Homo sapiens: one gene and its partners. The protein of the gene in region 2 purifies or fractionates together with the protein of the main gene of each other region. This does not show direct contact. Each region holds a gene or a part of one and is shown on either strand. Other genes may lie near its edges.

Evidence for each region. Proteins that work in one complex are often made in the same cells at the same time.
Region 1: the proteins of STRN (region 2) and MINK1 purify together in Homo sapiens (affinity purification with mass spectrometry; 3 studies listed by BioGRID and IntAct, with this or other methods). This does not show direct contact.
Region 3: the proteins of STRN (region 2) and TCP1 purify together in Homo sapiens (affinity purification with mass spectrometry; 3 studies listed by BioGRID and IntAct, with this or other methods). This does not show direct contact.
Region 4: the proteins of STRN (region 2) and FGFR1OP2 purify together in Homo sapiens (affinity purification with mass spectrometry; 4 studies listed by BioGRID and IntAct, with this or other methods). This does not show direct contact.

The regions. Positions count from the first base shown.
Region 1 is NC_000017.11:4,839,840-4,843,339, reverse strand, and holds part of MINK1 (misshapen-like kinase 1), read right to left. Parts: intron 1-3,500. UniProt on the Homo sapiens protein: Serine/threonine kinase which acts as a negative regulator of Ras-related Rap2-mediated signal transduction to control neuronal structure and AMPA receptor trafficking.
Region 2 is NC_000002.12:36,837,537-36,841,036, forward strand, and holds the end of STRN (striatin), read right to left. Parts: 3' UTR 162-3,500; downstream 1-161. UniProt on the Homo sapiens protein: Calmodulin-binding scaffolding protein which is the center of the striatin-interacting phosphatase and kinase (STRIPAK) complexes.
Region 3 is NC_000006.12:159,779,603-159,783,102, forward strand, and holds part of TCP1 (T-complex protein 1 subunit alpha), read right to left. Parts: intron 1,509-3,500; coding exon 1,333-1,508; intron 965-1,332; coding exon 841-964; intron 780-840; exon of another isoform or gene 648-779; intron 486-647; coding exon 293-485; intron 189-292; coding exon 25-188; intron 1-24. UniProt on the Homo sapiens protein: Component of the chaperonin-containing T-complex (TRiC), a molecular chaperone complex that assists the folding of actin, tubulin and other proteins upon ATP hydrolysis.
Region 4 is NC_000012.12:26,964,809-26,967,148, reverse strand, and holds the end of FGFR1OP2 (FGFR1 oncogene partner 2), read right to left. Parts: 3' UTR 501-2,340; downstream 1-500. UniProt on the Homo sapiens protein: May be involved in wound healing pathway.

The DNA.
Region 1 (3,500 bases), on a different chromosome or scaffold from region 2:
TGCCTGGCTAATTTTTTGTATTTTTAGTAGAGACAGGGTTTCACTATGTTGGCCAGGCTGGTCTCGAACTCCTGACCTCAAGTAATCTGCCTGCCTCAGCCTCCCAAAGTGCTGGGATTACAGGCATGAGCCACTGCGCCCAGCCCAAACCAACTTCTGATCCACATCCTGCCTGTTCCCCCTACCCTGCTTCGACACGTGGGGCTCAGGTAGTTTCCACTGTGAGGAATGACCTTGTTAAGGTTAGGCGGACTCTCTCCACCTCCTCCAAACCTTAGCTACCCAAGGCCAGGAGCCTACCAAGTTCTGCTCTCTTGACTGGGACTGGGAAACAGCGAGCTGTGGAAGGCAGCTCTGCACAGCTCCAGCTCATCCCGCTCAGCTGTGCTGCTTCCCAGCCACTGGTCCACCCTGAAAGGATACACTAGGGCAAGGTGTCTTCTACTGTCTCTGGTCACTCCCCCAGATGTAAGTAATGACATTCATTCACCACACCTCTGTCTTCAAAAAGACAAGTGTAGGATGAAAAGACCCCAGAGAAGAGACGATGTGCTGGCCCCTCTCTAAGACGCCACATGCACCTGCCTATCTTTGCCTCACGCTGCTTAGGCTTTGGGGCACTCTGTCCAACTGTTTTCTTGAAGACTCTTTCCTGAGTCACTTAGAACTAAAGACTAAGTATTGCAAGCTTCAGCCACTTTCTTAAAAATGTGCCTTGAAAGAAAGAGTGGGTGGGTGGTGAAAAGAGAACATGAAAATCTTCCTTACAGTCTGGCTGGGAGCCTACCTATTTTACCTCCAGAGGTATGCTAGCAGACAAAAGCTGCTAGATATGTGCCATGCACAAGGGTAATTTAGAGCCCACATTCCTCTCTCTACCTGGAAAGAAGTACACAGGGGACTTAGGAACTACTTCCTACTTCATGGAAGAAACCTGTCCAGTCCCTCCCCGGGTCTCTCCCATGTCCATAACAAGTTCATGAGAGGTACCAGTGGCAATACGGGTGGAAAAACAGTTCTTCGATGCACTGTCCCAGACTCTGCCAGATGGTTAACATCCCCAATCCCCATGTGCTAAATGCCGTTAGTGCTCCCAAGGCAGTTTTTTTTTTTTTTTGGACAGAGTCTCGCTCTGTCGCCCAGGCTGGAGTGCAGTGGCGTGGTCTAGGCTCACTACAAGCTCCGCCTCCCGGGTTCATGCCATTCTCCTGCCTCAGCCTCCCAAGTAGCTGGGACTACAGGCGCCCACCACCGCGCCCGGCTAATTTTTTTTTGTATTTTTAGTAGAGACGGGGTTTCACCGTGTTAGCCAGGATGGTCTCGATCTCCTGACCTCGTGATCCGCCCGCCTCGGCCTCCCAAAGTGCTGGGATTACAGGCGTGAGCCACCGTGCCCGGTGCTCCCAAGACAGTTAATCCTCCCTCCTCAGCATTTCCGAACACCCCCTGGAGGCCAGCGGTGCCCTGGCTGAGAACCAGAGTCAGCACCTGTACTGCTTTGTATCCCACCGTGCCCAGCATATACTGGGCACCCTGTACTAATTGTGGATTGAATCTAGTAGGAAAGGTCCAGTCACAGACATACTTAGATCCATGTCTCTTACCAAGTAATTTCTGAACCCCTACTGTGTGCTCAGCATCTTTACAGGGATCAAGAGGAAATATGGATCACAGTCTCTACACATAAGGAAGTGGTAGGAAAAACAAGACCATAAAACATTATTCAATATAAGGCAATATATAAGCCAATGCTAAATTGTAAGGTCTGTGAGAAAGTGGATGATGTGATCAGTAAAGGCTGGCAAAATCGGAGGGGGGGCTTTGTGGGAAAAAAACATAAGTTGAGGTGGCTCTTGAAGGAGGTGGGATTGTCTTCATTCAGCCCTACCGATCCTCAGTCTGTCCCTGCCAGGACCGCTGTTCATAGAAAACTCCTCTAAGCCTGTGGTTCTAGGAGCAATTCGGCAACCCAAGCCCTTCAAATCCCATCCCCAGGTGGTTCCTGGAACAAGACGGTGTGAGAAATTTCCCATTCTTTGTCAGAAGACCAGAGAATATCAGGCCTGCTTTCAGGAGGCCTGCTCATCCCAAAGGCAATGGAAGAAACCACTGGCGGAAGTGCCCGTGCGGAGATGCCCAAGACAGAACCAAAAAGCATTTGGTGCTACGTGTACATACTGAGTCACAGGCTCTAAGTGCTGGGGCCCCCAGTTGTGACCACAGACACTCCCCACGTCGCCTGTCCCGTGTGGCCCTGGAATTTACCTGCTGTGGATGAACCTGAGGTCTCAGCTATCTCCTCTGTCAAAGGTCTTCCTGTCTCCTCCCTCGCCAACTATCACCACGTTTCTTAGGCAGCTCGTCCCCATTTCCTCCATTCATCTCTCTCCAGCCACCCAGGCTCCTCCCACAGGCTGTGCCACCAAACTCTCCTCACAGCCCACCTCACCGTCTTCTACGCTGCCATCCTCCCGACATTCAAGCTGGTCCCAGAGCCTGGCTCCTTCAGGAAGCCCAAGACTTGTGGCTTCCCCAACCCTGTTTCCTTTCAAACACGCAAAATCAGTAACACTCCCCCTCCACACCCCACTCATCCTTTACTTGTATACAATGTAAATGGAGAGTCTTGTCTATTTATATACACTATCTATCCAATGTTAGAAAGAATCCCACTTCCCACAGACCATGCAGCTAAGCTGAGGGCTGGGCCTACTTGTTCTTATTTCCGTGAGACTCACCTACCTTCCAAACTCCAGGCACCCCTTAGGCTAATAACATCTAGGGATACACCCTCCTCTCTCATATACCCCATTCTGAGGAGCCACATCTAAACTACAGACCCAGGACCCAGAGTCCCTCCCCCAGTAAGTAAAAATGAGGATTATATGAGTCATAAGCTCTTTCCATATACATGCTCTTAACTTTTGAGACAAACAAATAAACCATTTTTTTTCCCCTCCCACAGGAAGATTCAGAAGAAATCCTTTTGGAATTAAGCCTGGAGTTTCCACCCCATCCTCAGGCTTCTTGCCCTCAATTGTTGACCAAATGCTTCACCATAAGAATGGCCCCATTCCAGAGTCTCCCAATTCTCACCATCACCAAACTCTACCTGCTGGTTCAACTCTATCTCATCTTTCTGCAGCAATGCCAGTTTAGCTTTCTGACATGATTTACGTCTCTCTCAATCAACTAGATATTTTTGTCTTATAAAAGTTTTGTCTCGTAAAAGCAATTTTTTTTCCATGACACAGCCCTCAGGAGATCCTGAGAACATATGCTCAAAACAACTCTTGTTATATGTGCCCACGGCATGTTAAAGTTTTCACTACAGTCCTTATCATGGCTTGCAATCACACACACACACACACACACACACACACACACACACACACACACATTAATAAATAATTACTTGATTAATGTCTCTCCCTACTACTAGACTGTATCACCACTGTGTCCTCTGTGCCTAGTTCTAGATCTTTCCTCAAACAGAACAC
Region 2 (3,500 bases):
ATAGTTTTGGAGAAAAACACTGGCAAATAGTAAGAAAAAGGGTTTACATGTAGTATAAAAAGAGCACCTGCAAATTTTAAAAAACACAGTGGAACATGGGCAAAACTTTAATAAAATAACAAAATAAACATTTTAAAATGCAAATATGCAATTCACTCAAGTGAAATTCAAAAGGCAAAGTTTTATTTGGAAAAAGTACTTTTGAATGTGGTCAACAGACAACTTACAAGAGTTGGAAAAAAATGTTTGCATCCAAGATAAGAAAATCTGAACATATATTGTACAACATACAAAATGCTTTCACAAACTAGTTAACTAAAAAGACAAACGGTACAAACATATGGACCAAAAATAAGAAAAATTTAAAAATGTATATAAAAGTATAACTACGAATATTTGTGGTAGGCAGAATTCTAAGATGGCCCCCATGAACTCTGCCCCTCATGTTACTTCCATGGTTGATGTTACATTGCAGGGCAGAGGGACTTGGCAGATGTAATTAAAGCTACTAATCAGTTGACCTTAACAATCTGGGTGTGCTTAAACTAGTCACAAGAGCCCTTTAAAAGCAGTTTTCTCTGGCTGGTAGAAGTAGAGTCAAAGTATAAAAATAATTTGATGCACCCTGGCAAGCTTTGAAGGTGGAAGGGACCACGTGCAAGGACCACGGAGCAACCTCTAAAGGATCAGATTTGACAGTCAGCTAGGAGACAGGGACCTCCATCCTCTGACTTTAATGAGGCTGGAAGCGAATTCCTCCTCAGAGCTTTAGTTGAGTACCCACCCTGGAAGACACTTTCATTTCAGCCTTGTTGGGCCTTGAACAGACAGCCCAGTTGAGTTTCCCTGGAGTTCTAACCTACAGAACTTTGAATAGATAATTCAGTTCTGAGTGCAATCCAGATGACCAAAACATTTGAAAAGATGTCTACATTTATAGTAGTCAGGAAAATGGAAATTAAAATAACACTGAAAAATCACTACATCCACCAGGATTTTTTTCTTTTTTCTACGTATTTTTTAATGTTACAATAGTTATTGCCATGAGTATTAAGGGAAAAGTGTTTTTATACATTTACTGATGGAAATAAAAACTGTTCCGGCCACTTTGGGAAACAATCTGTCAATATTTATTTAAAAATTTAAATATACATACTCCTCAATGCAGCAATCCTACTCCAGGGAATCTATTCCGCAGACGTAAAACCATCATGGTGACAAACATATACACAGGAATGTTTATTGTAATAATAAAAAGGAAATAAGAGCTATGATAGACTTAGAGAAATTCTCATCCTACATTGTTAAATGAGAAATGTGAGATGCAGAGAACGTACATGATCCCATTTATTTAAAGCAAACTGCCCACCAAAATATCTTCTCATTAACGTTAGACTGTATATGTTTACTGATAAATTTGAGAGACCTTTAAAAATTTGTAAGGTGCTCATGATACACATTATATTAGAAAAAGCAAGTGCAGCATAATATGTAGAATAAAACCCCATATGTAATAACTGGGTATACACATTTGTATGAATAATTAGAAAGATACATATCAGGGAGGTAGGAATGAAGGGGTATGATGGGACATGCTTCGTTTTGCCATTATGAATCTTTATGCATTGTTTTTTGCATTTAAATTCATTTCTGTCACTTTCTTAACCTGAAAAACATCAAATCATCCCCCTTCCCTGCTCTATTTTTTTTCCCTCTGCACTTATCACTAATATTCCCTATATTTTCACTTGTTCCCCCACCTGGAATGTGCTGCATCAGGTGAAGTTTTTGTTTACTGCTGACTGCCAGCAACTAGAACTGTGTGGCATATAGCTGGCACTCAAATATTAAGGAAAGTAGTCTTCTGCTACTCTTGATGTTCATTTTAACCTATTTCTCCTAAAACCCTGATGTTCTAGAAGCTATCAGGAGTGTGACCGAACTACATGACCAGAAGTCTGTATTCAGAGAGTGAACAAGTCATTTGCTGGATGCTTATTTTATTAGGTGTTTTACATCCGTTATCTCAAATCAACCTAATTAGGCAGATCTATTATCCCCATTTCATAGATGAGAAGCCAATTTAGAAGAGTTGACTTGTCTAAAATCTAACAGACAATAAATGTCCTATTGTCCAGGCCAAATTCCTGCTTTCTTCTGTGTTGAACTGATCTTAAAGGAATCATATTTTTAGTAATTTTAATGACAGTTCTTACATGGTATATGTTTAATGTTGAGATTATTCGTTGAATATTTCATATGTAATTTGCTGATTCTTTTAATGATTTAAAGTCATTTGAATATTAAATATAAATAGTTGGTCTCTAACTTGTTGACTGTTTTATTCCTAAAACAATTGCACTGTTCAGCTAAAGCCCTGGGCCCTGCTGGAGTGCTGTCAGAAAACCAAAGACAGAGATGTTCCTAGGAGAGTTAATAAACATTGGTACAATTACTATAAAATCTTCAAGACAAAAACCAGCCTGAGAGCATCCTGAGGAACTTTGTCCCAGAATTTTCCTCTCCAAAGAAAGCTCCCCAGAGGGATGCCTTTCCTGACAAGATTCCACTGGGAGGTTCGTCTTTCTCCTGGACAACAGCAGTCAGTAGGGCCATCTGTAGGTTGCAAGGAAAGAGTGTGGAAGTGGACCTGTTCTGAGCCCAGGATAATCAAGGCAGGCTCAGGTTCCAGGCTAGAAAAGCTCCCTTTCAACTGATCAGAGGCCAGTGGGGAACAGGGGATGAGCAGAGGAGATATGGGGGTCCGGGGATAGATGGGAGGTCATCAACAGGGTTTAGGGACACCTTCCTGTCCCCACCATGCTCTGCTCAGTTTTCACGCAGGCAGGACTGGAACTGTGCAGTATAAAGACGTTGCTACTCAGGCATTTTGTTGCTACCTGTGAGGTAAAGTCCAAATTCCTCTCCAGTCAAGGTGCAGACCTCAATCTCAGGATAAGCTCCACAGAACCAAATGCATTTGAGCATCAACTGTCAAGAGATTTTTTTTTTTTTTTTTTGGTCTTTGATGATTTGTATAATTTAGATTTTGAAATGGGCTCTCTGATTACTCAGCCAACAAATATTTATAGGGTACCTTTTATATGGCAAGGCACCAGGCACAGTGCTAAGAGGAACATAAGAAAAACGAACATGGTCTGTGCCTTAGGGAGCTTATATAGACAAAAGCAAACAAATAATCATTAACCTTTATTTTTGTAGGTGACAAATGAGCAATGCATAATATGCAAAATCTGGGTTAAGGGAGAGAATCAAGATATTCAGAAAAAAAATCTCATTACCTGCTCCTCATGCCTCAAAAAAAATCCAGAAGATTTTGAAATGCAGGAGATAAACATCACATATTCCTTATTAATCTTTGTATTCCAAAAATAATTTCTGAAAATCACAGGAAAGAAAACTTTTGTGTATTTATTAGCAGAGGCAAGCTATACTATCAATTGGACACCTCAAGGGCACAAAATTGCCTGGAACTACAA
Region 3 (3,500 bases), on a different chromosome or scaffold from region 2:
CAAAGAGCGGGAAACCATGCTTACCATTTTAGATTTTTACGTTCTGGGTTAACCTGGGCCTCATTATGAAAAGCTCTTAATTTTGCAACCAGATCTGTGGAGTCCTGGGCAGCATTAACTGCTAGTGTATTGGGAATAACAAGAAGTGATCTTGCAAACTCTGCAATCGCAAGCTGTTCCCGAGACCCCTAGGAAAAGAAGAAAATTAGGTGACTTCACAAAAGGGAAAAAAAAAATTGAAGTCCACAGCTACTGCTCTCAGGCCTCTAAGACAAGAAATGACTGTTCTTACCATGCTGGTTGCATAGTTTTCAAGGTATATGGAAAGGGCTGCTTCTACAGCACCCCCACCGGGAACCACAGATTTTGACTCCAAAACTCTCTTCACTACACAAAGTGCATCATGTAAAGAGCGCTCCATCTCATCACACATGAAATCATTTGCCCCACGTAAGATAATCGATGCAGACGTACGAGCCTTAGTACTGTTCAAAACAAAAGTACAATTCTTGTAATAGCATTTTTAAAAATTTTTTTTTGCCAAGACCATCAATTTCTCAAAAAAAATGGCATTTTAATAAAATAAGTCTACATAAAGTTCCCTTAAGTCCTGCCTACACAGGATATTTAGATATACTATACAGAAACAATGTCTAGTCCCTGCAGAAGAGATGAAAATGGTTACTTCATCTCAATTTACAGTGGCCCAATGTTATTTTATCCCATGCGTATAACTGCTCGTATCACTGTGAGACTACAAGCAGCAAATAAATGGGAAGAAAACCTACTTTTACTTAACAAAATCGGTATAACTTTACAATTTTAGAAAGTGGCTCTTACTTTTTGATTAAGATCAGCTCATCATCACAAATTCTCTCCTGTACCACTTCTTCTGCCTGTCCCAACATTGCAGCTTCAAAAGTTTCTTCACCTTCCAAATTGGCCAGGGTTGACAGAATAGTTGCTAATAAGAGAGTTACAAAGGATCTGTGAATATTGCTCTTTCATGATTTTAATATCCTTGGACTCAGTAGCATTTGTGGTAAAAGTGCTATATTACAAGTTTAGAATTTAGTTAGGCAGCACACGGTAACTCCTTTTATCCTAAGATGGAACTGTCATTTTAGAAATGAACAAATTCAGTTCACAAATTTCCAACAAAATTTCTCCAGTTACATGAAAAATGGCTCTATAAATGTGTTGGTAGCACAAAGCATTAAGAGAATATAAATGTTTTTGAGCTGTTTTCTGTCAATATTCCAATGTAAAAAGACCTTTGATAGGATCAGGGATAATAAAAGTATTTTATGTGACAGCCAGCACAAGACATACCTCCAGAAGCTTTGGCAATGCGTTTAAGGTCCCTTTTTAAAACTCTTCTAACTGCCATAGCACCAGCCTCCACAAAATACTTCAGACACATATCATCAATTCCACCAGTGGTTAGAATAACATTGGCACCAGTTGCCAGGATCTTCTGAATTCTCTCCTTGGTGATATCTGATTCTCTGCAAAGTATTTTTGTAACCTGAGTTACCTTCTGTGATTTTTAAAAATAATTTAACTTCCATTAAGTATTTATCACAAGATAATCATAGATCAAATTGTATTATCCTTTGTTATCTCTGACCAGAATTTAAATTAGTCCAATTCATGGAAAATTTGAAGGAATTAAAAATTACCACTTAGCTCTCCCCAACCCAAATTTGAATTACTAATTGAGAACTATGGTTAAACAGGGAACACAGGTCCTGCCTTCAAGGATCTAGTGGGGAGAGGGATTACCAATCACACTCCAGGGCAAGTGTCACTAAAGTGGTATGCAGAGATTACAAGCACATAAAAGACATAAATTTAGCCTAGGAGGTGGACAATGAAGATGAGTCCAGGCCAAGTGCAGTGGCTCACGCCTGTAATCCCAGCACTTTGGGAGGCTGAGGCGGGCAGATCACCTGAGGTCAGGAGTTCGAGACCAACCTGGCCAACACGGTGAAACCGCCTCTACTAAAAATACAAAAAATTAGTTGGGCCTGGTGGTGGGCGCCTGTAATCCCAGATACTCAGGAGACTGAGGCAGGAGTATCACTTAAACCCGGAAGGCGGAGGTCGCAGTGAGCCGAGACCGTGCCACTGCACTCCAGCCTGGGCAACAAGAGCAAAACTCCGTCTCAAAAACAAACAAACAAACAAAAACAGGAGTCCAGAGTTGAAAGCACAAAAGAAGGCAGAACCAGAAAAGTGAAAAACCTTGCAGGTTACACCAAACAATCTAGATACTAAGCTTAATATCTCTAAGCAAGACTAGTATATCATCTGTGTTTTCAAAAGGATTCCCTGATTATCAATGTGGAAACTGCACTGAATGGCTGAAGACAAGAAGATAATAACATGAGATATAAGCTGAAAGACAACCTAAACAGAAAAGTCAAATTTTATGGCTTGGGTGACTCCTGGAGTAAAATAAATAACAAGAGTTTTGGGGGCAGGATGGGAAATGAGAGTTTAGTTGAGGACAAGATTAAGTTTGAAGTCTCTGCTGTTACTCAGGTGAAGCTCCCAGGAGGCAGTCACTTACATCATGGAAACCATAAACTATGGGAGATCCAGATTTGAAGAGTCAATATGAGTGAAGCCATGTGAATAGATCATTCGAAGAATTTTTAAAGTAAAATGAATTACAGATCAACCTCAAAAGCAGCTTGTCTACTAAACAAGTACTGTGTGCTACACACTGTTATATAAACTCATGGTAAAAACTGTAATAAGCCCCAGGAAGAAAAAATACAGGAAGTTACAACAGAATATAATTTAGATTGAAGAAGAAAGAAAAGCTTCTCTAAGAGACTAGCTTGGGTGTGTTTCTACAACAGTCTAGGCAAGAAAATGAAAAGTAGGTAAATTTAATTTGGAGGTAGAAATCAAGCGGTCTTGGTGACAGATTAGGAGAAAAAGTGTTGGTAAAAAGGAGGAGTTAAGGACATTTCCTAGTTTTCTGCCTGTGTGAAGGACTCCCCATCACTAAAATGGTCAAAAGCAGATTTGCGGTATTATCACAAGTTCAGTTTTAGACATGTTCACTTTGAGATGCTTGAAAAGCATTCTACTAGATAGAGGTATGTGTGTTTGGAGCTTAGAGAAACAGCTGAAAGAGTCTCTGGCATAGAGAGATAATACATGAAGTCATGGGAACAAAGGGGCTATCCTGGAGAGTATTATGACATGGTCCAGACAAAGCAGCATCACAAAGCCTTCCATCCCCGAAAGCATTTCAAGAAGGACATAATCAAAGGGTTGCTAAAGGTCAAGTAAGAGGAAGGCTGAAAATGTCTTCCGAATTTCACGCTAGAGACCTTAACATGCAGTCCCTCAAATGGAGAACAGGGCTGAAAAGGGATGAGAAGAAAAGCACCAGAGAAGTTTTGTGTAGTAAACCACTCATGACATCTGCCTGTAAAGATGTACGATAGGGAGTACCTATAGCACAAGGATGTATGAAGAAG
Region 4 (2,340 bases), on a different chromosome or scaffold from region 2:
GAAGTCTGAAATCAAGCAGGCTTGGTCCTTTCTGGAGCCCGTGAAGAACCCATTCCATGCCTCTCTTGCAGCTTCTGGTGGTGGCTAGCAGTCCTTGCGTAACTCATTGCCTCTGTCCTCATGCTGCTATATCTGTGTTTCATATCTCCTCCTCTCTTATTGTAACGACACTAGTCACTGGGTTTGGAGCCCACCCAAAATCCAGGGTAATTATATCCTGAGATCCCCTAATCACATCTGTAAAGACTATTTCCAAATATGGTCACCTTCCCAGGTGTATCAAGTTAGGACTTAGACTTACCTTCTAGGGGACATGATTCAACCTACTACAAATGGTAAGAAGTTCTGCAGGATCCACACTAAGAAGCTGCTAATTCCTAAGGAATACAGATAGAGGTCACTGCTAAGTAGTTTTGCACTAAGAAGAGACAAAAAACCTTAAAATTAAACCATATATAAGAATAAGGGTAAGCACTTTTCAAATTAAATTGGAGACCATACCAATTTTAATCATTCATCTTTAATAATAAAATAGGTTCCTATGCAGTACATACCTCAAACATAAACTTAAGGTTCTGTTTAACAACAACCAAAAAAAAAAAAAAAATAGGATGGAAATGTGTCACTAAATAACAAAGTAAATGTCTTTAAACATGAAGACCTTAAATTCATATCCAAGCAAAAAGACGAAGAATAAGTTAACCCAACTTGTTTACAAAAATAATTATTTATCAAGTAAGCTTTTATAGTAGAGCTGCCTCAATGAACTGCCTCAGACTTAATCTCAATGGTGTAGCTTGAAATAGATTTCCTTTATTAGCAGGGATAAGAAGTATCTGAATGAATGTGTCATTAAATTAAGGAATACTTTCCCAAAAACAATAAAAAGTTTAAAAATAAAAACTGTCATTTATTTATAAAATATCAAATAAGGCCTCTGACTGAAAAAAAGAAATCTATATAATGTTTGGGCCATTAGCCCTTTTCTATTCAATCAGTCTCATCCACCCCATTCACCCCAAACTTAAGATAAAAAAATTCTCAAGTGTAGTTTTGAATTTTACCAATATATGAAATTATACATAAAATTACCATATAAAGTAATATTTAACAAATTATATACTCAAAGTATAATTTTCCATTTGTCTTAATTTTAATACGTATTCAACATAAATGAGTACAATATATTTAACCATGTTTGACACTCTTCTTTTATCCCTTTTTAATACAATCACCACAACATAAGAAAATTTAGGTTTCAACTGATGTTAAAGCACATTTCTGTATCTGGTGGTTTTTAAAAAAATTACATATTATATATTTGACATTTTAAAAGACAACAGAAACAAATCCACAGATTACTCCACCTTTACCCCCACTTTCAGCTGAAAGGTTTTAAGAAAAATCTTGCAGGTTATGAGGACCAGATGGAGCTTAAAAACAGATCCGGAACTTTTTTTTTGAAATTGTATTTACTTTTTTTTTTTGTATCTCAAGAATACTTAAAGGAAAAAAAAAAGGGTTCTATGAGCCAGAGGAATTCCCAATTCACTTTGAAATTACCATACCTATCTTGCCATATCAAACATTTCAATTCTGTTAACTAAATGAACTACATAATATCCTTAAAAATCAGCCAGAGAAGAGAAAAACAAATCTCGTCTTCATTATTGACTTTGAACCAAAACTTATTCTTTCAAAGGAGTAGTTTAACCTACTAAATATGTCTATTATAAGATCTTCTTTCTTAGAAAGTAGTATTCCTTCTTTTTCATTCCTGAAATGGTATTTCTTACACTTAAACAAGTTATGGACAATTGTTAGCTAAGTATCAGTTATGATAAATTGCTAAAATTAAATTATCTGTTTAAGGTACATATAACACATTCCTATAGCCTTTAAAACTGTATTTTCTTTCACAAAAATTTAAATAAATGTGAAAGTAGGCAATCACTAGAAGTCTCATGGTACATAAACTTTGCATCAACTTTGACGCCAAATAAGGATGAAATTTAGCGTACAAATCCTCCGTTCACAAAACAGTGGCAAAAATTTATATTTTTAAATTGGTATAATTTTATGCATTCTCAAACATTTACTGGGAATATTCAAGTTTACCTAATTAATCACCCAGAAAGCCAGCAGTACTGCCAAAAGCTCTTGGTATATTCAGTAGTCACTGTGAAAACTTTTCATTTCTTTACCATTTGGCAATGGCTCAGTTTCTATTTTCCAATTATGTTTTGGAATAAAGTCTATGACCATTAACTATGCATTTTTTGTTGCTATCTCATAGCCCGTGCACTGTACATATTTACAGAGAAAAAAATAAAGGATTGA